Regions from separate parts of the Homo sapiens genome. Here regions 2, 3 and 4 are each linked to region 1. Evidence: fine-mapped expression QTL. A gene starts in region 1. Each other region holds a variant in brackets. All regions are shown on one strand. Distances are between the middles of the regions.

The links. PIP is the estimated chance that this variant, and not a neighbour inherited with it, causes the effect. A credible set is the group of variants that fine-mapping cannot tell apart.
Region 2: its variant is the best candidate, but not a certain one, in a credible set for the expression of ATPAF2 in nasal epithelium (TOPMed, PIP 0.60).
Region 3: its variant is the best candidate, but not a certain one, in a credible set for the expression of ATPAF2 in transverse colon (GTEx, PIP 0.73).
Region 4: its variant is the best candidate, but not a certain one, in a credible set for the expression of ATPAF2 in breast (GTEx, PIP 0.55).

Annotation. Positions count from the first base shown.
Region 1 is chr17:18,036,861-18,042,322 of GRCh38, forward strand. ATPAF2 (ATP synthase mitochondrial F1 complex assembly factor 2) reads right to left here and starts at 2,308. Exons shown (of 8, transcript NM_145691.4): 1 at 2,021-2,308. The coding sequence starts at 2,153. It overlaps GID4 (GID complex subunit 4 homolog), which reads left to right and starts at 2,548. Exons shown (of 6, transcript NM_024052.5): 1 at 2,548-3,042. The coding sequence starts at 2,605. RefSeq lists enhancers at 1,967-2,036, 2,047-2,096, 2,237-2,346, 3,497-3,556 and silencers at 2,457-2,546, 2,557-3,146.
Region 2 is chr17:17,921,070-17,926,531 of GRCh38, forward strand. The region is part of intron 1 of TOM1L2 (target of myb1 like 2 membrane trafficking protein); the gene reads right to left. Among named protein-coding and RNA genes, the nearest start is that of TOM1L2, 49 kb to the right of the region's middle. RefSeq lists enhancers at 1-339, 874-1,407, 1,408-1,941, 1,942-2,474 and a silencer at 486-780. The variant G/A (reference allele first, on the strand shown) is at 2,287.
Region 3 is chr17:18,069,425-18,074,886 of GRCh38, forward strand. No RefSeq gene overlaps it. Among named protein-coding and RNA genes, the nearest start is that of DRG2, 16 kb to the right of the region's middle. The variant T/C (reference allele first, on the strand shown) is at 3,178.
Region 4 is chr17:18,112,708-18,118,169 of GRCh38, forward strand. The region is part of intron 1 of MYO15A (myosin XVA); the gene reads left to right. LOC105371566 (a long non-coding RNA gene) reads right to left here and starts at 4,854. Exons shown (of 3, transcript NR_164159.1): 1 at 4,635-4,854. The variant C/T (reference allele first, on the strand shown) is at 2,571.

The sequences.
Region 1 (5,462 bases):
CAGGAGTTCATGACCAGTGTGGCCAACATGGTGAAACCCCATCTCTACTAAAAATACAAAATTAGCCACGTGTGGTGGCGGACACCTGTAATCCCAGCTACTTGGGAGGCTGAGGCAGGAGAATTGCTTGAATCTGGGAGGTAGAGGTTGCAGTGAGCCAAGATCACACCATTGCATGCCAGCCTGGGTGACAAGTGTAAAACTCCATCTCAAAATAAATAAATAAATACGTAAATAAATAAATTAATTAACCCTTTGCTTTTTGCCAACTTGGTGAACTCCTGAATGTGTCCCCTTTGCTATGCCTCCCTGGGATGCCCTTCCTTTCTCTTCTTTACTGGCCCTTCATGGCCCATTTCCAGGCCCTTCCCCTGAGTCCTGCAGGTGAAACTTCAGCTCCCTGCTGCATCCAGCCCCCTTCCCCATTTCTATAAAGTTATAGAACTTGGCTGGGCGCGGTGGCTCACGCCTGTAATCCCAGCACTTTGGGAGGCCGAGGTGGGCGGGTCACAAAGTCAGGAGTTCGAGACCAGCCTAGTCAATATAAACCCCATCTCTACTAAAAATACAAAAATTAGCAGGGCATGGTGGCAGACGCCTGTAGTCCCACCTACTTGGGAGGCTGAGACCACAAAATCGCTTGAATCTGGGAGGCGGAGGTTGCAGTGAGCCGAGATGGTGCCACTGCACTCCAGCCTCTGTGACAGAGGAGACTCCGTCTCAAAAAAACACAAAAAAACAGAAGAAGAAGAAAAAAAAAGAACTTGACAGCCAGAAAGATCCTCAAAGGCAACCTAGTACTTCAACGCATGGAGAAAAATGAGGAAGTAGTTGCATGCCCAAGATCACACAGACCTCAGAGGTTCAGCCAGCATCAGATCCTAGATTTGCACTCCTGCCACAATGCCAAACTGCCTGTGAAGTTCTGGATTTTCTAAAACAGGCAGTGTCAGGGAAAAGTCCCTCATACCTTGCTGTCACCCTGGACACGTTCTAGATACCCAACACTCTCCCACCTTTTTGCTGAACTCCTACTCATCTATCATGGCTCAGCTTAAACAAACGCCCTTTCACCCAAGACCCATTCTAAACCCTGAACATCCCCAAGATGGGAGTAAGCGATTCTCTGTGTTCTCACAGTTTCTTTGTATGTCCCTTATCAGGATATTATAAACCACAATTTAATCAGAATATTATAACCTTTTGCAATGAACAGTGAACATCATTCAGGTGGGCCTTTTTCTTCTTTAATTGAGCTTCTCTACCAATACATACAGGTGGGTCTTAAAGACAACCGTGCCTCCTGCCTCCAGCACAATAAAACTAATTGAATGGTGGGAGGGTGTTACTGCTCTTCATTCACTGAAATGAGTCATTCTCACTCTTACCCTGACACCACTCACCATCAGCAATGAAAGAGCCACTACTTCTAAGCTTCATCAGAGTTGGAGGTGGAGGTGACTCCACAGTCAGAGGTGGAGGTGTCAATTTCTATTTAGGAGAGAAGGCTGCAGATGGCAGAGGTTGTGGTAGGAGGGAAAGTCAGGAAACCTGCAGCAGAAGTGCCCGGGATGGAGGAATGAAGGCCCAGGTTCTAGGTCCCTTCTGGGCAGGTCTTGTGTTGGGCAGTGGAGACACGGAAAACAGTCAGACAGACACCACAAACCTCTGAGAGAGTCTGCCTGTAACCCAGACGAAGTCCTGATTCAGAGCCCAAACTTCCCCTTTTGAAAACAAAGATGACACCTGCTTTCCTTATTAAAGGGAGGGCAGCCATAAGCTTTGAGAAAACCTGCACAGGCCAAATATCAATTACTGTATCGTGCGTGACTCGCTGTTCCCTCTCGGGTCGTCTGCCCTTGTCTGGGCTTCACTTTCTCATCTGTAAAAAGACCTGACTGGCCTGCATAACCTCATGAGCCTGAACCCTGCCTCAGTTACTTCGCTTTGCACAGCCGAAGCCCGAAGCCCACCTTACCCCAGCTCGGCCCCAACCCAAAAGAACATGTCATGGTCTTACCTGTCGGCGGGGCGTAAGCCCGGGCTGGAGACGGGATGGTTGGCCCCGGACTCATAGAAGCGCTGGGGCCACCCGCCGGCCGATTCAGGAGACGGCGTCCCCCGTCCCGCAGCCGGAGGCAGCTCCTCCACATCGCGCCCGAGGGTCTGGGAAGATGCGAGACGCGAAACCTGGAGCAGGAAACACAGAGCGATGGGATCCCCAAAGCCGCACGGTCGGGCTGTACGGAAACCTCTCAACGCCTCCTCAGAGCCCTCAACCTCCCTTGGACGCCGCCATCTTCCGCATGACACCTACGGCGCGCCGTCGCCGCCGCGCGCCTCCTGCGCACACCCCCAGTCAATCAGCATCACAAACGCACCTCGCCCCGCCCCCTCCACGCCGCGCCTCGGCGAGGAGACTACAAGTCCCAGCGGGCCGCTCGCGCACCGCGCCACGTGTTTTCTCCTCCCGCCAATGGGCGGAAGCGCCGCCTGAGCCTGCTCCCGCCCCCCAGGCTCGCCTGAGCCAATCGGAAGGGGCGGGGTGTGTGTGTGTCTGTGTGTGTTTGTGTGTTGTGTGTCTGTGAGTGTCTGTGTGTGTGTATGTGTGCGCGAGGGCAAGTCGGGAGGGGGACCCAGCTCAGGACTGGGAGGCCCTGCTCGCAGGTCCCTGGGTCCCGGTGGCGGCCGGAGCGCTTGCTCCGCAGGCAGCGGGCGGGTGGTCGCCCCTCCCGCCCCCACCCCGCGCGTGCGCGCCCCGGCCTCTCCCTCCCCGCCACCCTCCTCGGCTCCCGCGCGGCGGCGGCGGTTCCTCTCCCACTCCCCCCAGCCCTGGCTCCGGGGGACCCCGCGATGCCGGTCCGCACCGAGTGTCCCCCGCCGGCCGGTGCCTCCGCTGCCTCCGCGGCCTCACTCATCCCGCCGCCGCCCATCAACACCCAGCAGCCCGGCGTGGCCACCAGCCTGCTCTACAGCGGCTCCAAGTTCCGCGGCCACCAGAAGAGCAAGGGGAACTCGTACGACGTAGAGGTGGTGCTGCAGGTGAGCGCCGGGCCGGGCCGGGGCCCGAGGGCCTCCTCGCGGCGCTCACGGGCCGTGCCCGCTTCGGCTCCTCGACCCCGCAGCCGCGGAACAGGCCCTCGCCGCCGGGGCCTCCTGCACCCGGCGCTTCCCACCCGGGACCTTCCCAGCCTGTGTCTCACACTCTCCGAGCCCCAGCCCTGACCTGCCCCTTCGGACCCAGAGCCCGTCGTGACCGGCTCCTGGCGGACCCCGAACACTCCCAGACTTGAAGCCCGTGACCGGCCCGTCTGGGATCCGGAAGCCCCTCATGACTCGGAGAAGGCCTGGGTCCTTCCTCCCCATGACCTGTCGTCCCTAGATCAGGGACTGCCACCAGCCCTTTTCAGACCCTGAAGAACTCTCCATTGGTTTCACCAGACTTGGGACCCTCCCCATGTCTGGGCCCACGTCAGATTCTCTCAGACCTGAGACATGTCCTCCTGCCCCTTCCTCAGTTCCAGGAATCCGCAGACCTTGGGGTCTTCCTCCTCCTGAGATCTCCTTAGGAGGGCTTCATCAGACCCCCAGACGGGGGAGCACCTAACCCGCAACTGATTGGTCAGGCCCTGGCCTCACCTCAAGACCAGGCACTCACTCCCTGAGTGCTGCTCACAGTCTGTTGGGATGTTGCCTCCTGGGTCCCCTGTTCCACTCACTGCTTCTGTCTCTTCATGGTCCAGGCACCCAGCTCCTTCCAGCTTCTCCACCCCCAGGCCTCCTGCCCCTGCTCTGGGACCATTTGCAGTCTTTTCCCAGTCTTCCTGGCCTCTATCCAGACTTCCCCACCCCATACCTTCGTCTTGCTCGATCCTGGTTCCAGGGGACCCTCTTTCCTGTTCTTAACTTTTCTCTACACAGGCACAGGGCTTCCTCTTAGTCTCTGGTACCCATGTACTGGGAAATCTAACTCACCCAATTTTAGTTCATGTCCAGTCGCCTCCCCCCATTTGACCTGGATTCCTGAATACCTGCTGCCAGTCCCTGATCAGCTTCGGAAGTACAGCTTCACTTGTCTGGGCCTTTCCCACACCTCACTCCTCTCAGGCTTGACACTTTTTGCCAGCTGAAATGGAGTGGCAGTGGTGAATACTCTTTTATCTCCCCTCCCCACAAAACTCTTCCTCCTCTATACCTACCCCTGCCTGACTAAGGACCCCTTTCCCCTTCCCTTTGCCCTTTTTTTCCTTAGTCTGACACCTCATCTGCCAGGCTGTTCCCAGAAGCCCCTCCAAACACCTGTCCCTCTGAAAGGCACTGTGTGCTGCCCCACTGCCTCCCCCCCGCCCCACCCCCCGGGGTGTGAGGGTGGAATGTACAGTATATTTATTCCTCAAGCTCTCCTTTTGGTCATTTAAAACAAATCTTAGTTTCACTTCTGAAGAGTAGGTCTCCCATCCAAAAGACAATGAGGGTGCCTTTTCTTTCTGCTAACTGCGGAGCACTCATCACTCTTTTATTCTCATACTGCTTTGTGGGAATAAATCATTTTCTCTGCTTACTTGAAACAGCATCGTCATGTTAATCATATCTTTGGGCTGTAAAGTTCTATCATGAGCCACGATAGTTATTATAATGGAAATACGATTGTGGCTGAAATATTTTTGTCTTCATAACTGTATGCCTAATGTAGTGATCCTCTTCTTAAAATGTGAGAGTCGAGTATGAAGGTACAGGGGTTTTTCGGTTTGTTTTGCACCTAGTCATAGAATTCTGGAGGTGAGATCCCTGGGTGGGTCACGTTTGGGATGATCTTGGATTTGTCCCTGTTGTTCAGTTTGATGGTTTCTGATGTAGTAGGGGACAATTGGCAAGATAGCCAGGCGTCAAAGGGGAGTCTGCTTTGGCTACTGCAGCAACTGCTGCTCCCTTCTGTCATTAGGGTATCACTTCTGAGCTCCTTTCAGAAGGAGAATCATGAACCAGGGGAAGCAGTGGTTGAGTTGGGGCAGGGCTGATAGGTCTCAGGCAGCCCAGAGCAGAAACCTGGTGGATGGCTGGGAGCCACTTGAGTAAGATGTCTGATGGTGGGGGTGGTGGTCATGCCAATGAATGCTGCCCTACATCTGGATTGGTGAGCTGCTTGGTCATCATCACGACTAGTCAGTGGCATGTGAATTGCCCCATCATCTGGTTTTTCAGCCAGGACTAGTTTGTCAGACACAGCCTTCTTAGACTTAAAATACTTCTGCCTTTTATAACTCAGCTTCTTTTTGTTTGTTTTGTTTTGTTTTCTTTCTTTCTTTTTGTATCTTTATTTAGATAGAATTCACTTATTTAAGGTGTACAATTCAATAGTTTTTAGTATATTCACAGTTGTTTAACCACCACCACAACCTAATTTTAGAATATTTTCATCACCCCAAAAGGAAACCTTGTATGTAACCCTTAGCCATAACCCC
Region 2 (5,462 bases), 120 kb before region 1:
CGATCCAGAATACCACACTGCATTTTGTTTTCCTCTCTTTGAAACCTTCTGTTTTCTTTAAAGACCAATAAACTCTCAAACTCCCCAACTTATTCTCCTGTCTGGAGAGCTCAGTTCTAAAGGACAGCTCTGTGTGAGCCCCAATTCCACACCCTGGCCTCATTAGGACACCACATCCTCCCACTCCCCAAACAAAGGAACCCTTCAGGCCAGCCAAACAACAGAGAAAACAGAAGCTTGTTAGCCACACAGGCCCGAGGCTGCTGACCCAAGTTCTTTTTTAACTGGAATTCCCTTGAGGAGGATCCACAGATTTAAAATGCATTTGGGGTGTGCTCTCTAGAAGCAGAGCCACTGGTATTTGATGTATGCCGTTCTTTGTACTTAATGGAATAACTTACGTGTGAGTCAGTGTGTGAGAGTAGCTGGGGGAAGAGGCCAATTTAGGGCCAGGATGGAAATTGGCCATGGGGGAGGAAAGGCCTCTGCAGGAGCCAGCCAGGCCCCAAGATGGTGCCAGGCTTTGGGGAAGAGGGGGCTGTGGCCAGCTTGTCCCAGCCTAGCAGGCTGTGCTCTAATGTCAGACAGGTGGGGGTGGCTGGGAGGATCAAAGTTTCTCTGTGACCTGGTGATCAGGTTACAGTTTCTGCTTAAAGCAGAGCAGATAAGGGAAAGTGGGGGCGGGGTGGGGGGGTGGGATTCACCTGTCCTGTCTTCCTCTCGGCCTCTTCGTGCAGTCTGCTTTGCTGCCAATTTCTTCTTCCCCAGAGCGCCTCCCAGGGGCTGTTCCCCTCGCCCTCGTGCCCACCATTCACCACCAGCACTCTCAGAGAAGAGAGGAGGTGTGCCTGAGAATTTCACAGTGTGCCACACTGTCACCAGCCTTTTTTTTGAGCTTCTCCCGATGACAGAGACACATCCCAGAGATGTGAATGCCACTCCTTGGGAAGGATTATCCAAAGACTTCCCAGCTCAATTTAAAAACTTCAACTGTGAGGCCTCTCCCTGCCAGACTGGGATGGAAAGAAGTAAGATGGAGCCCCTACACTGAAAGCACTCCCCAGGAAAGACCTGCAGCCAGCCATCCAGGACACAGGGCACAGACCTGAGGCTGAACAGGGGAGCAGAGGGGACTGTGAAAGCTAAGAAATGGGCCTGGTACAAGGAAAGAGCAGGAATTTGAAGAGAGAGGAACATCATAGGCTATGCAAACAGCCTCCCAGGGCCAGGGCCTCGGTGAAGGGGAGCGGTGAGAGGAGGCCAGCTCTGGAGTGTCCTTTCATTTTCTCTAAGGAGTCTGGGCTTTCCACAGGAGGCAACATGGGGCTTTTCAACAGGAGTGACAAGAATATTTATGTCTGAGACAGATCGCTCTGGTAACAGCATGGGGGCTGTAGTGGAGTGGAGAGACTGCAGGCAGGAAGCAGGGGGCAGGTTATCACAACTGCTCAGTGAGAAAAGGAGACAGGACAGCATGTTGGTCAAGGTCATGGCTTTGAATCTGGGGACTGGGGGTCAGTCTTGGCTCTCTCTGACCTAGGACACATTTCTCACGCTCTCTGAATTTCATCCATAAAACGGGCAAAACAATTGTACCTCCTCACAGGGTGTGGTTAAGATCAAATAAGTTAGTGATATAAGACACGAAACAGGGAACCTGGAACATAGTGAGGGCGCAATAAATATGAACCACAATTCTTAACTTGTGTATTCTGTGGACTGCATCTCAGGAAAGACGGAATTCCAGCGGGGAAGCAGAAGGGGAGGGTGACTGTCTCCAATGCTTTTATTGCAGCCTCCAGGTGGAATAGTGAAGTGGCCACCTTAACTGCCTCCTGGAGTGTGAGCAGAGAGGACCAGGACAAGGCTGCAATCTGTTGGCCAGGCACCAACTAGCCTGTGAGGCCAACCAGGGACCGCAGGCATCACCAGGAACAAGGCTATAAAAAGGCCTCAAAGAGTGATTACAAAATTCCACACCAGGAGAAAGACTCCCAGAAGTTTCCCAGGGCTCATACCTGCTGTGCTCATTAAAGCCACAGTGTTGGCTGGGCGCAGTGGCTCACGCCTGTAATCCCAGCACTTTGGAAGGCCAAGGCAGGCGGATCGCCTGAGATCAAGAGTTCAAGACCAGCCTGGCCAACTTGATGAAATCCTGGTCTCTACTAAACATACAAAAAAATTAGCCAGGCGTGGTGGTGGGTGCCTGTAATCCCAGCTATTTGGGAGGCTGAGGCAGGAGAATCACTTGAACCCGGGAGGTGGAGGTTGCAGTGAGCCGAGATC[G/A]CGCCACTGCATTCCAGTCTGGGCGACAAGAGTGAAACTCCATCTCAAACAACAACAACAAAACAACAACAACAACAACAACAACAAACACCCATGGTAAAACTTCAACACTTGTATTAACATGTATTTTTAAGCCTGGGCAACATAGGGAGACCCTGTCTCTACAAAAAAAAATTTTTTTTTAATTAGCTGGGCGCAGTGGTGAGCATCTGTAGTTTCACCTACTCCAGAGCCTGAGGCAGGAGGATCACTTGAGGCTAGGAGGTCAAGGCTACAGTGAGTCGTGATCGCACCACTGCACTCCAGCCTGGGCAAGAGGGTGAGACCCCATCTCAAAAGAAAAAAGTTAAAATTGTAGATTTTATGTTATACACATCTTTAAAATGGTAAAAAAGATACTTGGGAGGCAAGAGGATCACTTAAGCCCAGGAACTGGAGGCTGGGAGACACTCCAGTCTGAGAGACAGAGCAAGAACTTGTGTCTAAAAAAGAAAAAAAAAGGCCGGGCGCGGTGGCTGTCGCCTGTAATCTCAGCACTTTGGGAGGTCGAGGTGGGCAGATCATAAGGTCAGGAGTTTGAGACCAGCCTGGCCAACATGGTGAAACCCCGTCTCCACTAAAAAAATACAAAAATTAGCCAGGCATGGTGGTATGCACCTGTAATCCCAGCTACTCGGGAGGCTGAGGCAGGAGAATTACTTGAACCCAGGAGCAGAGGTTGCAGTGAGCCGAGATCGCGCCACTGCACTCCAGAATGGGCAACAGAGCAAGACTCTGTCTCAAACAAAAACAAAAACAAAGGTAAAAATGACTACATATTGTATGATTCCATTTATATAAAATGTCCAGAATAGGCAAATCTATAGAGACAGAAAATAGATTAGTGATTGCCTGGGGTTGGAAGGGCTGGGGGAAATGGGGAGTGATTGCTAATGGGTACGGAATGATGAAAATGTTCTAAAACTGATTGTGGTAATGGCTGAACAACGCTGTGAATACAATGTTTTTTAAAAAAAACTCTGTGACTATACTAAAAACCACTGACTTGTACATTGTAAATGGGTGAATTGTATGGCATATGAATTATATCTCAATAAAGCTGTTGAAAAATGGGAGAAAAGCTACTAGGAATGTGTTCAATGTAGTATTATTTAAAATCCTTAGCTGGGTGCAGTGGCTCAAGCAGGAGGATCACTTAAGCCCAGGAGTTTGAGACCAGCCTGAGCAACATAAACCTTGCCTCTACAAAAAATACAAAATTAGCCAGGCATGGTGGTACATGCCTGTAGTCCCCAGCTACTCAAGAGGCTGAGATAGGAGTATTGCTTCAGCACGGAAGACTGAGGCTGCAGCGAACCGTGATCACATCACTGCACTCCAGCCTGAGGGACAGAGTGAGACCCTGCCTCAAAAATAAAATAAAATTCTTAAAACTTCTCAAATATAAAATAAAAAAGTGATGATTAAATATAGTATATTGATTCCACTGAATATTATATAGCTATTGATATAGTTTGGATATTTGTCCCCACCCAAATCTTATGTTGAATTGTAGTTCCCAATGCTGGAGGTAGGGCCTGGTGGGCAGATCCTTCATGCCTTGATGATGTCTTTGTGATAATTCTTGCAATATCTGGTCAGTTAAAAGTGTGTGGCACTCCCTCCTCCACTCTCTCTCTCTGTTTTTTGTTCCTGTTTTCACCATGTGAGGTGCCTGCTCTCCCTTCCCCTTCTGCCATGAGTAAAAGCTTCCTGAAGCCTCCTCAGAAGCAGCTGCCAGTACTATGCTTCCTATACAGCCTGCAAAACCATGAGCCAAATAAACCTCTTTTATAAATTACCTAGTCTCAGGTATTTCTTTATGGCAATGCAAGAACAACCTAATACAGCCATTATAAGTAATAATTCTTAAAACCATATAGAAACATTTTGTAATGATGTAAGAAAAAAAAGACACAAAATTGATTTTTAAAAAAACATGCATATGGATAATGCCTGGAAGATAAATGGGAAAAAGTGAAAATAATCAGTGTGTTGAAGTATTTGGCTTAAAGGCAAACTTTAAAAATTTTTTATGTTATTACTGTTACAAAAAGAAGGAAAGAGGATATTATACAGCAAAAGACTAAGAAAGAAAGTGGCAAACTAATGACCAAAACTAAAAGCCAGTTATTTAATTCTTCCATCAAAAATAGCCAGGTATAGCCCAGGCGCAGTGGCTCATGCCTCTAATCCCAGCACTTTGCCACGCTGAGGTGGGAGGATCTCTTGAGCTCAGGAGTTCAAGACCAGCCTGGCCAACATAGCGACCTCACCTCGTGTCTACCAAAAAAAAAAAAAAAAAAAAAAATTAGCCAGATGTGGTAACGCATGCCTATAGTCCCAGCTACTTGGGAGGCTGAGGTAGGAAGATCGCTTGAGCCCAGGAGATGGAGGCTGCAGTAAGCTATGATGGTGCCACTGTACTCTAGCCTGGGTGACACAGTGAGACCCTGTCTCAAAAAAAAAAAAAAAAAGCTAGGTATAGGCTATAGGTTAGTCGTGGTGCCTCATGCCCATAATCCCAGCACTTTGGAAGGCCAAGGCAGGAAGTCCACTTGAGCCCAGGAATTCAAAACCAGCCTGGGTAACACAGCAAGACCTTGTCTCTACCAAAAATTTAAAAATTAGCAGGGCTCAGTGGCACGCACCTGTAGTCCCAGCTACTCCACAGGCTGAGGTGAGAGGATCACTTGAGCACAGGATGTCGAGGCCGCAGTGAGTTGTGATCATACCACTGTATTCTAGCCTGGGGGACAGAGTAAAACTCTGTCTCTTGGAGAAAAAAAAAAAAAAAAGCTAGGTACAAGCTTTCAAGCTGGCCTAAACATAAGTAAGCTTCATTACTTAGTCTGAACATACAGACTTAAGGATAAAAGCCTGGTAACCCCAATATCTCTCAAAAGGCATTTTATTCTGACCAGGCCTCCCTGCTAACTCTCCCTTGTCCCAAAGGAGGTCACCCAGGGTACCCAGCTAGTTAAGGAGGACCAAACTGAGAGCCAGTCTGGACTGGCACAAGGGGAGATGCGGACATAAATGTACACGTGTTTCACATTCCAAAGCCAAATACAATAGGGTTCTAGATCATCTGGGAAATTACTCCTATTCATCAACATAGAAAGGTCACGAATATC
Region 3 (5,462 bases), 33 kb after region 1:
TGGGATTACAGGTGTGAGCCACCACACCCAGCCAAGACACCATTTATTGGCTGTTTTGTTGAATGGAAAAGTCATGGGAGGCCTGGGTTCCACCTATCAACCTTGGGTCCCAATCTGCCCTCAAGGTACATCAGCTAACCTCCCTGAGCCCAACTTCCCTCACCCAGAAAGTGGAAAACCTCTGTCTGGACTAAAGAATTGTTGAGGATTCTAGAAGATGCTCCTGAAAGCACATTGTAAATTGAATAAGAATAATTGTAAATTGAATAACATGTAAAAAGTTATTCTTGCTTAATAATAATATAAAAATATCTACTGGGCCAGGGTGCGGTGGCTCATGCCAGTAATCCCAGCACTTTGGGAGGCTGAGGTGGGAGGATCACTTGAGGTCAGGAGTTCGAGACCAGCCTAGCCAACATGGTGAAACCCCATTTCTACTAAAAATACAAAAACTAGCCGGGCATGGTGGCGGGTGCCTGTAGTCCCAGCTACCAGGAAGCTGAGGCAGGAGAATCACTTGAACCAGGGAGGCAGAGGTTGCAGTGAGCCAAGGTCGTGCCACTGCACTCCAGCCTGAGTGGCAGAATGAGATTCCATCTCAAAAAAATATAAATAAATAAAAAGTATCTACTGAGCCTTGCCACATGCACCATTGTAGGTATTGAGGGTGATGCAGGAATAAAACATGTCTACAACAGCTATAGCAACTCTCTTTCATATCTCGATTCTTAGATCCCCAATTTATAACCTTTAGTTAGCTTTGTTTTTAGGCCATCTATAGGAACTGTAGAAATAGTAGAAATTGTGTAGATTTTAAGTGTGAAACCAATTGCAAAACAGGACAAAAGGAAAACTATAAGAATGCTGTCGGCTGGGCGCGGTGGCTCACGCCTGTAATTCCAGCACTTTGGGAGGCCAAGGTGGGCGGATCACAAGGTCAGGAGATCAAGACTCATCCTGGCTAACACGGTGAAACCCCGTCTCTACTAAAAATACAAAAAGTTAGCTGGGCGTGGTGGCAGGCCCCTGTAGTCCCAGCTACTCAGGAGACCGAGGCAGGAGAATGGCGTGAACCCGGGAGGCGGAGCTTGCAGTGAGCCGAGATAGCGCCACTGCACTCCAGCCTGGGCGATAGTGCAAAGACTCCATCTCAAAAAAAACAACAACAAAAAAAGTGCTATCTCCACTCATCTGAACTGCACCTGGGAAGGGAAGCATTAAAATTGCTCAGTAATGAAATAGGCAGTAGGCTTTGATATATTTAAAAATAAAAATTAAAAAAAAAAGCCTCAAAGTTGGATTGCAGTTGAACAGCTTTTCCCTCCAGATTTTTCTTCCAAAACATCGAAAGATTGAAACTCCCTATTTGTACATAGCAGGGAAAACATGTAAGGCTTTTCATTTGTAGAGAAACATATGCTGGATTCAAGTTTATTTTTGCCATTTTTTTCCTTCTGATTTTTCAGTTCGCTTCATTTTTCAATGCATTAGTCATGGTTTCTCTCCATAATCGCTCCACAGCCCCTCCATCTTCATGCCTTCTCACTGGCTTGACCTGGAGCAGTGTTTCTGAAACCTGGCTGCACTTCAGAAGCACATGGGAGCTGATTTAATGTCAGGCAGCATGCAGACCAGTCCTCACAACCTGTCGATGTTTTTAAAGCTCCCCGGGTGACTCCAACGCACAGGAAGCTTTGAGCGTAACTAAGTGAGCCTCCCGCCCTGAAATGAGAGAAAGGCTTTCAGGCTTGTGGTGTTGGTGGACTAAGTGTGGCTTCTGGCCATTCACACAGTCACCACACTGCAAGGGAGCTGGGAACTGGAGCCTGTGAGAAGCCCCTGTGAACAATGTTCTCTGTCTTAAAACAGCTTACACGGACTTCTCCTTTTTACCTCTAAAAGATTCATTCCCCTTTCCCCAACCATATACCCCAGATTGCAACCCCTTGCTATTCTCAAATAAACTTTTTGTTTTGGAGTGTCAGTCTCTCTCTCGCTTATTTTAGCTTGATGTGAGTAGCTTGCAGAGTTGTGCTGCATAAGGAAAGAAAATAAATAGGAAGTAGCTGTCAGGGGAGTGGGCTAGAAATGGGTTGTTGGTTTGGTTATTTCTGCAGGGGGAGGGGTTTTCTGCAAATTATATGTAATGAGGCTTTGTTTATTGTGGTAAAATGTGTATTACATAAAATTTACCACTTTAACCACTCATAAGTGTACAGTTCAGTAGTATTAAGTACATTCACATTGTGTTCCTATCACCACTGTTTCCAGAAGTTTTCCATCATCCTAAAGAAATTCTGGACTCAGTAAACGCTATCTAAATCCCCATTCCTCCCCCTAGTCCTGATAACCACCATTCTATTTTCTGTCCCCATGAATTTGTCTAGATCCCTCATAGAAATGAAATCATAATAGTATTTATCTTTGTGTGACTGGTTTTTTTCACTTGTAGAATGTGTCAGAATTTCTTTCTATGCTATGGCTGATACTCCATTGTATGTATATAACACATTTTATCCATCTGTTGATGAACATTTGGGCTGTTTCTACCTTTTGACTATTATGCATTGTGCTGTTATGAACACTGGTTTGTGTGGTCAGTATCTGTTTGAGTACCTGCTTTCAAGTATTTTGAGTTTGTAACTAAGGAGTGGAATTGCTAGATCATATAATTCTATGCTTAACTTCTTGAGGAACACCAAACTGTTTCTCATAGTGGCTGCACCATTTTACATTCTCTCCAGCAGTACACAATGATTCCATTTTCTCCATATCCTCTCCAACACCTGTTTTCCTTTTTAAATTTTTTTTTTTTTTCTTGAGACAGAGTCTCACTCTGTCGCCAGGCTGGAGTGCAGTGGCACAATCTCGGCTCACTGCAACCTCCACCTCCCGGGTTCAAGTGATTCTCCTGCCTCAGCCTCCCAAGTAGCTGGGACTACAAGGCACGTGCCACCACGCCCAGCTAATTTTTGTATTTTTAGTAGAGATGGGGTTTCACCATGTTGGTCAGGTTGGTCTGAATCTCTTGACCTCGTGGTCTGCCCACCTCGGCCTCCCAAAGTGCTGGGATTACAGGCGTGAGCCACTGTGCCCAGCCTTAAAATTTTTATAATGGCCATCCTAATGGGTGTGAAGTGATACGTCACTGTGATTTTTGTTGTTGTTTTTCTGAGA[T/C]GGTATCATTCTGTCACCTAGACTGGAGTGCAGTGGCTTTTCTTTTTTCTTTTTTTTTGAGACAGAGTTTTCCTCTTGTTGCCCAGGCTGGAGTGCAATGGCACGATCTTGGCTCACTGCAACCTCCGCCTCCCAGGTTCAAGCGATTCTCCTGCCTCAGCCTCCTGAGTAGCTGGGATTAGAGGCACCTGCCACCATGCCTGGCTAATTTTTGTATTTTTAGTAGAGATGGGGTTTCATGATGTTGGCCAGGCTGGTCTTGAACTTCTGACCACAGGTGATCTGCCCACCTCGGCCTCCCAAAGTGCTAGGATTACAGGCATGATCCACTGCGCCTGGCCGTGCAGTGGCATTTCTGCACTCCATAATCATGACTCACTGTGGCCTTGACCTCCTGGGCTCAAGCAATTCTCCTTCCTCAGCCTCCCAAGTAGCTGCGACTACAGATGCACGCCACCACACCCAGCTAATTTTTTTTCAAAATATTTGTAGAGACTGGCTCTCACTATGTTGATTTGCATTTACCTAATGATTAGTGATGCTGAGAAATCATCTCAAGTGTTTATTCAACATTTGTATATCTTCTTTGGAGAAATGTCTATTCAAGTCCTTTGCTTTTTTTTTTTTTTTTTTTTTTTTTTTTTTTTTGTAGAGACAGGGTCTCACTACGTTGCCCAGGATCTCTGCTTTCTTTTTTTTTTTTTTTTGAGACAGAGTCTTCCTGTGTCGCCCAGGCTGGAGTACAGTGGTGTGAGCTTAACTCACTGCAACCTGCACCTCCTGGGTTCAAGCGATTGTCCTGCCTCAGCCTCCTGAGTAGCTGGGATTACAGGTGCCCACCACAACGCCAAGCTAATTTTTGTATTTTTAGTAGAGATGGGGTTTCACCATGTTGGCCAGGCTGGTCTTGAACTCCTGATCTCGCAATTCGCCCACCTCAGCCTCCCAAAGTGCTGGGATTACAGGTGTGAGCCACTGCACCCGGCCCCCTGCTCATTTTTAAATCAGGTGCATTGTTTCATTGTTGCTGAATTGTAGGTGTTCTCTATATTTTCTAGATATTAATTCCTTATCAGATACATGCTTTGCAAATATTTTCTCCTATTATTCTGTGGGGTCTCTTTACCATCTCTTTTTTTTTTTTTTTTTTGAGACAGAGTCTCACTCTGTCGCCCGGGCTGGAGTGCAGTGGCACGATCTTGGCTCACTGCAACTTCTGCCTCTCAAGTTCAAGTGATTCTCTTGCTTCACCCTCCCGAGTAGCTGGGATTACAGATGCCTGCCACTACGCCCAGCTACTTTTTGTATTTTTAGTAGAGATGGGGTTTCACCATGTTGGCCAGGCTGGTCTCGAACTCCTGATCTCGCAATTTGCCCACCTCAGCCTCCCAAAGTGCTGGGATTACAGGCACGAGCCACCGTGCCCGGCGGCCTCTTCATGCTCTTGATAGTGCCTTAATGATGCACAAAAGTTTTTTTTTTTTTTTTTTTTTTTTTTGAGACGGAGTCTCGCTCGGTCGCCCAGGCTGGAGTGCAGTGCTATCTCAGCTCACTGCAAGCTCTGCCTCCTGGGTTCACACCATTCTCCTGCTTCAGCCTCCCAGTAGCTGGGACTACAGGCGCCCTCCACCACTCCTGGGTAATTTTTTTTTTTTTTGTATTTTTAGTAGAGACGGGGTTTCACCGTGTTAGCCAGGACGGTCTCGATCTCCTGACCTCGTGATCCGCCCACCTCAGCCTCCCAAAGTGTTAGGATTACAGGCGTGAGCCACCGCGCCTGGCAAAAGTTTTTCTTTTTGATATAATCCCATTTATCTATTTTTTTTTTCATTTTGTTGCCTGTACTTTTGGTGTCATATCCAAGGAACCATTGCCAAATTTTAATGAATTTCTAGGTAACCATTTATTATAAATTATAGTACAGCTATATAATGAAACACCTCTCAGCATTTCTTATAAAAAGAAATGTACTATAGCGATACAACACAGATGAATCTGGAAACATTATGCTGAGCAGAGGAATCTAGACACAGAAGACGATATGCTGTGTGATTCCGTTCAGATGAAGTTGTAGAAAAGATGAGTCTAACTGGTAGTGATAGAAAGCAGATGGGTGGCAGCCTGGGGCTGAGTTGGGGTGAGGACTGAGTGCGGGGGGGTGGTGGTTTCTGGAGTGATAGAGATGTTCTGTGTGTCAAATGTGGGGGTGGCTGCATCGCCCTATGCATTTGTCAGAACTCATTGAATTATGCACTGGAGAATGGTGTGTTTTATTGCAAGTAAAT
Region 4 (5,462 bases), 76 kb after region 1:
CACATTTACACTTTTAAATGTTACATTTTTTTTGGTTTTTGACTCAGAAATGCATTCATATGGATAAAAATCAAACTAATATAGAAAGATTTACAGTGAGATAACTATTCTCATTAATTTCTTATGTATCTTTTGCTGTATTATTATTATTTTTTTTTGAAACGGAGTCTCACTCTGTCACCTGGACCGGAGTGCAGTAGCATGATCTCAGCTCACTGCAACCTCTGCCTCCCGGGTTCAAGAAATTCTCCTGCCTCAGCCTCCCAAGTAGCTAGGACTACAGGCACACGCTGCTACACCCAGCTAATTTTTTTGTATTTTAGTAGAGATGGGGTTTCACCGTGTTGCCCAGGCTGGTCTCGAACTCCTGAGCTCAGGTAATCAGCCTACCTTGGCCTCTCAAAGTGCTAGGATTACAGGTGTGAGCCACCACACCTGGCGCTGTATTTCTTTTGTTTGTTTTGACACAGAGTCTTGCTCTGTGTCAGAGGCTGGAGTGCAGTGGCATGATCACAACTCACTGCAGCCTCAAAATCCTGGCTCAAGCGATCCTCCCACTTCAGCCTCCTGAGTAGCTGGGCCTACAGGTGCTTGCCACCTGTAATTTTTCGGTTTGTTATCTAGGGACAGGGTCTCGTTATATTGCCTGGGCTAGTTTCAAACTCCTGGGCTCCTCCCATCTCAGCTTTTCAAAGTGCCCAGGCATGAGCCACTGCTCCTGGCTGCAGTATTTCTAATATGGAAATAAAAAAGCAAACACAAGCTGAGCATGGTGGCTCAGTGGCTCATGCCTATAATCCCAGCACTTTGGGAGGATGAGGTGGGCAGATCACTTGAGGCCAGGAGTTCAAGACCAGCCCGGCCAACATGGCAAAACCCTGTCCCTACTAAAAATACAAAAATTAGTCAGGCATGGTGGTGCATGCCTGTAATTCCAGCTACTCAGGAAGCTGAGGCCTAGGAGGTGGAGGTTGCAGTGAGCTGAGATCGCATCACTGCTCTCCAGCCCGGTTGACGGAGTGAGACTGTCTCAAAAAAAAAAAAAAGGCAAACATAAGAATACAAACTTATATTCTTAGCACCTCCCCTGACACACACACACACACACACACACACACACACACACACACACACTCTTCCTACAGAAAGGCCTCAGTAAACACTGTAGTCAACAGGCTGATCTGCAGCCTGCTTCCTGCACTAGCAGGTCCTGGAGATCGCTCCCTATCAGGACACAGAGATCGTCCACATTCCTTGTTATAGCTGTGTTGTGTTCCATCCTGGAATGCATTGTGGTGTACTGCAGCAATGAGCAGCTCTGTTTGTGTGTCCTTACCCATAAGGACGTGTAAGAGAGATCCCCAGGGGTGGATTACTTGCATCCTTCCTTCCTTCCCTCCCTCTTGTCCTTTTTCTTTTTTAAAACAATCAATATATAATCCGCACTCCATACAATTCACCCATCAAAGTGTACAATGCTGTGGTTTTAGTATGCTCACAAGTGTGCCCACCTTGTGACCACCACAGTCCTGTCTTTTTTTTTTTTTTTTTTTTTTTTTTGAGACGGAGTTTTTGCTCTTGTTGCCCAGGCTGGAGTGCAATGGCTTCATCTTGGCTCACTGCAACCTCTGCCTCCCAGGTTCAAGTGATTCTCCTGCCTCAGCCTCCTGAGTAGCTGCAATTACAGGCATGCGCCACCACGCCCAGCTAATTTTTGTATTTTTAGTGGAAATGAGGTTTTACCATGTTGGTCAGGCTGGTCTCGAACTCTTGACCACATATGATCCACCTGCCTTGGCCTCCCAGAGTGCTGGGATTACAGGCATGAGCCACTGCACCTGGCCCTGGTCCTGTCTTTCTTGAAACCTCTTCCATCAGGTGTAACTTCCCTTGCCCCTGCTACTGTACTGGGACCATTCTTGTCACAGTCACCCCTGGAGCTCTAAGGAGCTGCATCCATTAGTCAGCTCTCCATTCTTGACTAACATGCTCATCTGTCATAGCGGTCCCATCTGTCATAGCAGTCCCGCCCTCCTGTGCAGCCCCCAGGACCCCACTCCCTCCTGGGCCTCTACCTCCTCCTCTGGCTGGCTTCGTGGTGCTCACTCACTGCCTCCTTGGCTCCTAAGCACTGCAGCCCTGCGGCTCATTCCGTGGCCTCTCTTCCCTCTATACTCATTCCCTGGTGTCATCCTCCAGAGCTGTGGCTTCAATGCCATCTAGATGCCAATGACTCCCTAACTGATGTCACCAGCCCTGGTGGCTGTGATGGCCCCCCAGCAGTGCCCAGTGCCCAAAGCTGGATCCTGGGCCCTACTTCCTCAATTTGCTCTGTCTGCAGCCTTCCTCATCCTGGCCAATGACCTGACGGCCTCTCCATTCTCCCTGATGTTCAGTAAGGAAACTTGGGAGCCATTCCTGCACCCTGCCTCATCCCCATCATCAAATCCTGTCAGTCCTACCTGCCACATGTCCCCAGCATCCTACCACTTCTCCACACTTTAACCGCTGGCAGCCTGGTGCAGGAGGACCTCCATAGAAGCTTCCATGCTGGCCTCCCTGCCTTCACC[C/T]TCACTCCTGCAGCCGCTTCTCCCATAGCAGTAGAGGCTGCTATCAAGACTGAGGTCGAGGCTAGGCTTGGTGGCTCACGGATGTAATCCCAACACTTTGGGAGGTCGAGGCAGGCAGATCACCTGAGGTCAGGAGTTCGAAACCAGCCTGGCCAACATGGTGAAACCCTGTCTCTACTAAAAATACAAAATTAGCTGGGCGTGGCGGTGTGTGTCTGTAATCCCAGTTTCTTGGGAAGCTGAGGCAGGAGAATTGCTTAAACCTGGGAGGCAGAGGTTGCCGTGAGCCAAGATCGCACCATCGCACTCCAGCCTGAGCAGCACAGCGAGACTCTGTCTCAAAAAAAAAAGACTGAGGTCGAATTCCATCCCTTCTCTGCCAAAACCCTCCTCCCACGGCTCCTGCCTCACTGGCAGTCGAAGCCAAGCCCTCATTGTGGCCCACAGGCCCTGCACATGTGCCCCTGAACTCTGACCTCACCACCCAGTGCACCCCCACTGCCCTCCAGCCACCTGGCCTGTCTGCTCCTCCACCTGCTTGGGACTGTGCACTGCCCACAGGCTCTCTCCATGGCCCCATAGCCACTAGGCCTTCCCTGACTTCCTGTTTAATGTCACAACCCCACTTCTTGCTGTCCCTTCCACGGCACTTACGCCCCATTATCTGTTACTGATTTTCCATGTTTATTGGCTTTCTCTCCACCCACATATGGTAACTGCATGAGGGCAGGGTTTTTCTCTGTTTTGTTCACAGCTGTGTCCCAGCACTTAGACGGTGCCTAGCATGCAGCACACTTCCCACAGAGGCTTTTGAATGAATGGGTGAGTGAGTAAATGCTGGCTCAGGACCCTTAGGGAAAGGGGCCAGGCTGACTGAGGAATCCAGGTTGGGGTAGCGGTGGGCAAGCACTGGAGAGGCCTTGGTGCCTGTTGGAGGCCCAGCTGGGCTCTGGTTTGCCCAGTGGCTTGGTCAGGGCCCTCCCCCTCCAGGCAGGAGCAGGTTGTGGGGTTAGCACGACTATGCTCCTGGCTCTGCCCAGTGTCCTAAGCCACTCTAAACCCAGTGATGACCCAGGAGCTCAGCGGGCAGGAGGGCCTAGTAAGGGAGGTAGCTCTGGACTCGGCCAGGCCTGGGTTCTACCTTCCCAAGCCAGGTGGCCTCGAGCAAGTCCCTTCATCTTTTGAGTCTGAGTTTCCTCATCCGGAGAATGGATATACTAATAGCTCATATCTCACAGACCTGCTGTGAGAGTCCCATGAGACCACTGTGCAACACACCTGACTGGGGCCTCACTTTGGAAACTGGCTCCAAGAGGAGCTGGGGCAGTTGTTGATATCTCCAGGCTCAGAAAGAATGTCTCGGCTGGGCGCCGTGGCTCACATCTGTAATGTCAGCACTTTGGGAGGCCAAGGTTGGTGGATCACCTGAGATCAGGAGTTTGAGACCATCCCGGCCAACATGGTAAAAACCGTCTCTACTAAAAATACAAAAATTGGCCAGGCGTGGTGGCACATGCCTGTAATCCAAGATATTTGGGAGACTGAGGCACAAGAATTGCTTGAACCCGGGAGGCGGAGGTTGCAGTGAGCCGAGATTGCACCACTGCCCTCCAGCCTGGGCAACAGAGCGAGACTCTGTCTCAAAAAAAAAAAAAGAAAGAAAGAAAGAACATTGCCCCTGTCCTTCATTTTTCCTCAAGCGGGCAAGAGCCACTGCCCAAAAACAGAAGGGAGAGTGGGCAGCCCCTCAAACTCCTGCTGTGCAGGAGGCCCACTTCCTGCACGTATCCCCTAACTCGCTCCAAAAGCCCTCCATCCAATTTCTCTGGTTTCCATCAAGCCCCACTCCCCATCCCTGTGAGACTGCCTGCACCAGGCACCAACAGCCCCTGGTGCAACTCCTCTGAGTGGCTGGGCACTGACTGGCTCCAGGTGAATCTTGGGGAGGAGGAGCAGGAAGAAGAGGAAAGTGAAGAGCCAGAGAAAGTGAGCAGGGGGAAGAGGCAGACAGAGAGGGGGAGACCTCACTTGCTGCATGGTCCCCTCTCTGCTCCTGCCACTTACCTGGGAAGGCCTCACCCTGTCCCTGTTTCACAGCTGAGCACGTTGAGGCTCTGAAGCCACTGATCTGAGGGCGTGGAGCTGGCAAGTGGCAGAACCAGGGCCAGAACCTTGCTGCTTTGGGGTCTCCTATGCTAAACCTTAAACAACCAAAGAATTAGCTCTGGGACCAAAAGAGTGAACCAGAGTTCAGTGAGTTGAGGTCCATCTTGAGGAGGAAGAGGAGGAGGAGAGCTGGTTCTGAGGCTTCAGGTCTCAGAGCTGCCACTCCCCACCTCCGCTGGCCTGCCCAGTTTTTCCCACCCCCTACCTCTTTTAGTGCAGGTTCTCAAAAGTGAGTTAGACTGGCCACCAACCAGACTTTGGACATGCAGCCTTAGGTCAGGCCATATGAAGCAATCAGCTATGCCCAGAGAAGGCAGTAACCACATGGCCACAGCCTACTCAGCCAGGGCAGAAAGTAAGAGGAGAGGACAGGGCTAGGCAGGGACCCCAGAAAGGAGCCAGCAGGAGGCATCTCCAGTTACCCAGCAGCTCCATCAGGTCTTGCTTCCTTTTGGTGAAGGAGATGGGGCATAGCTTATCACTCCCATTCTTCAGAGGAAACTGAGGCCCAGAGAGGACAAGGACTTTCCTGGACCCACACAGCCAGTCAGTGACAGAGCCTAGGGTCTGAGCCAGGCCTGACCCAACCTCCATTTCTGCCTCTCTACCCCTGCCCCCGCCCCAACACACACACACACACAAGTGGAGTTCCACTGAAACGCCCCTCCTTGCCCTGCCTTCTGAGCCGGCAGCCTGGCTCCCCACCCCATGTATTATTCAGCTCCT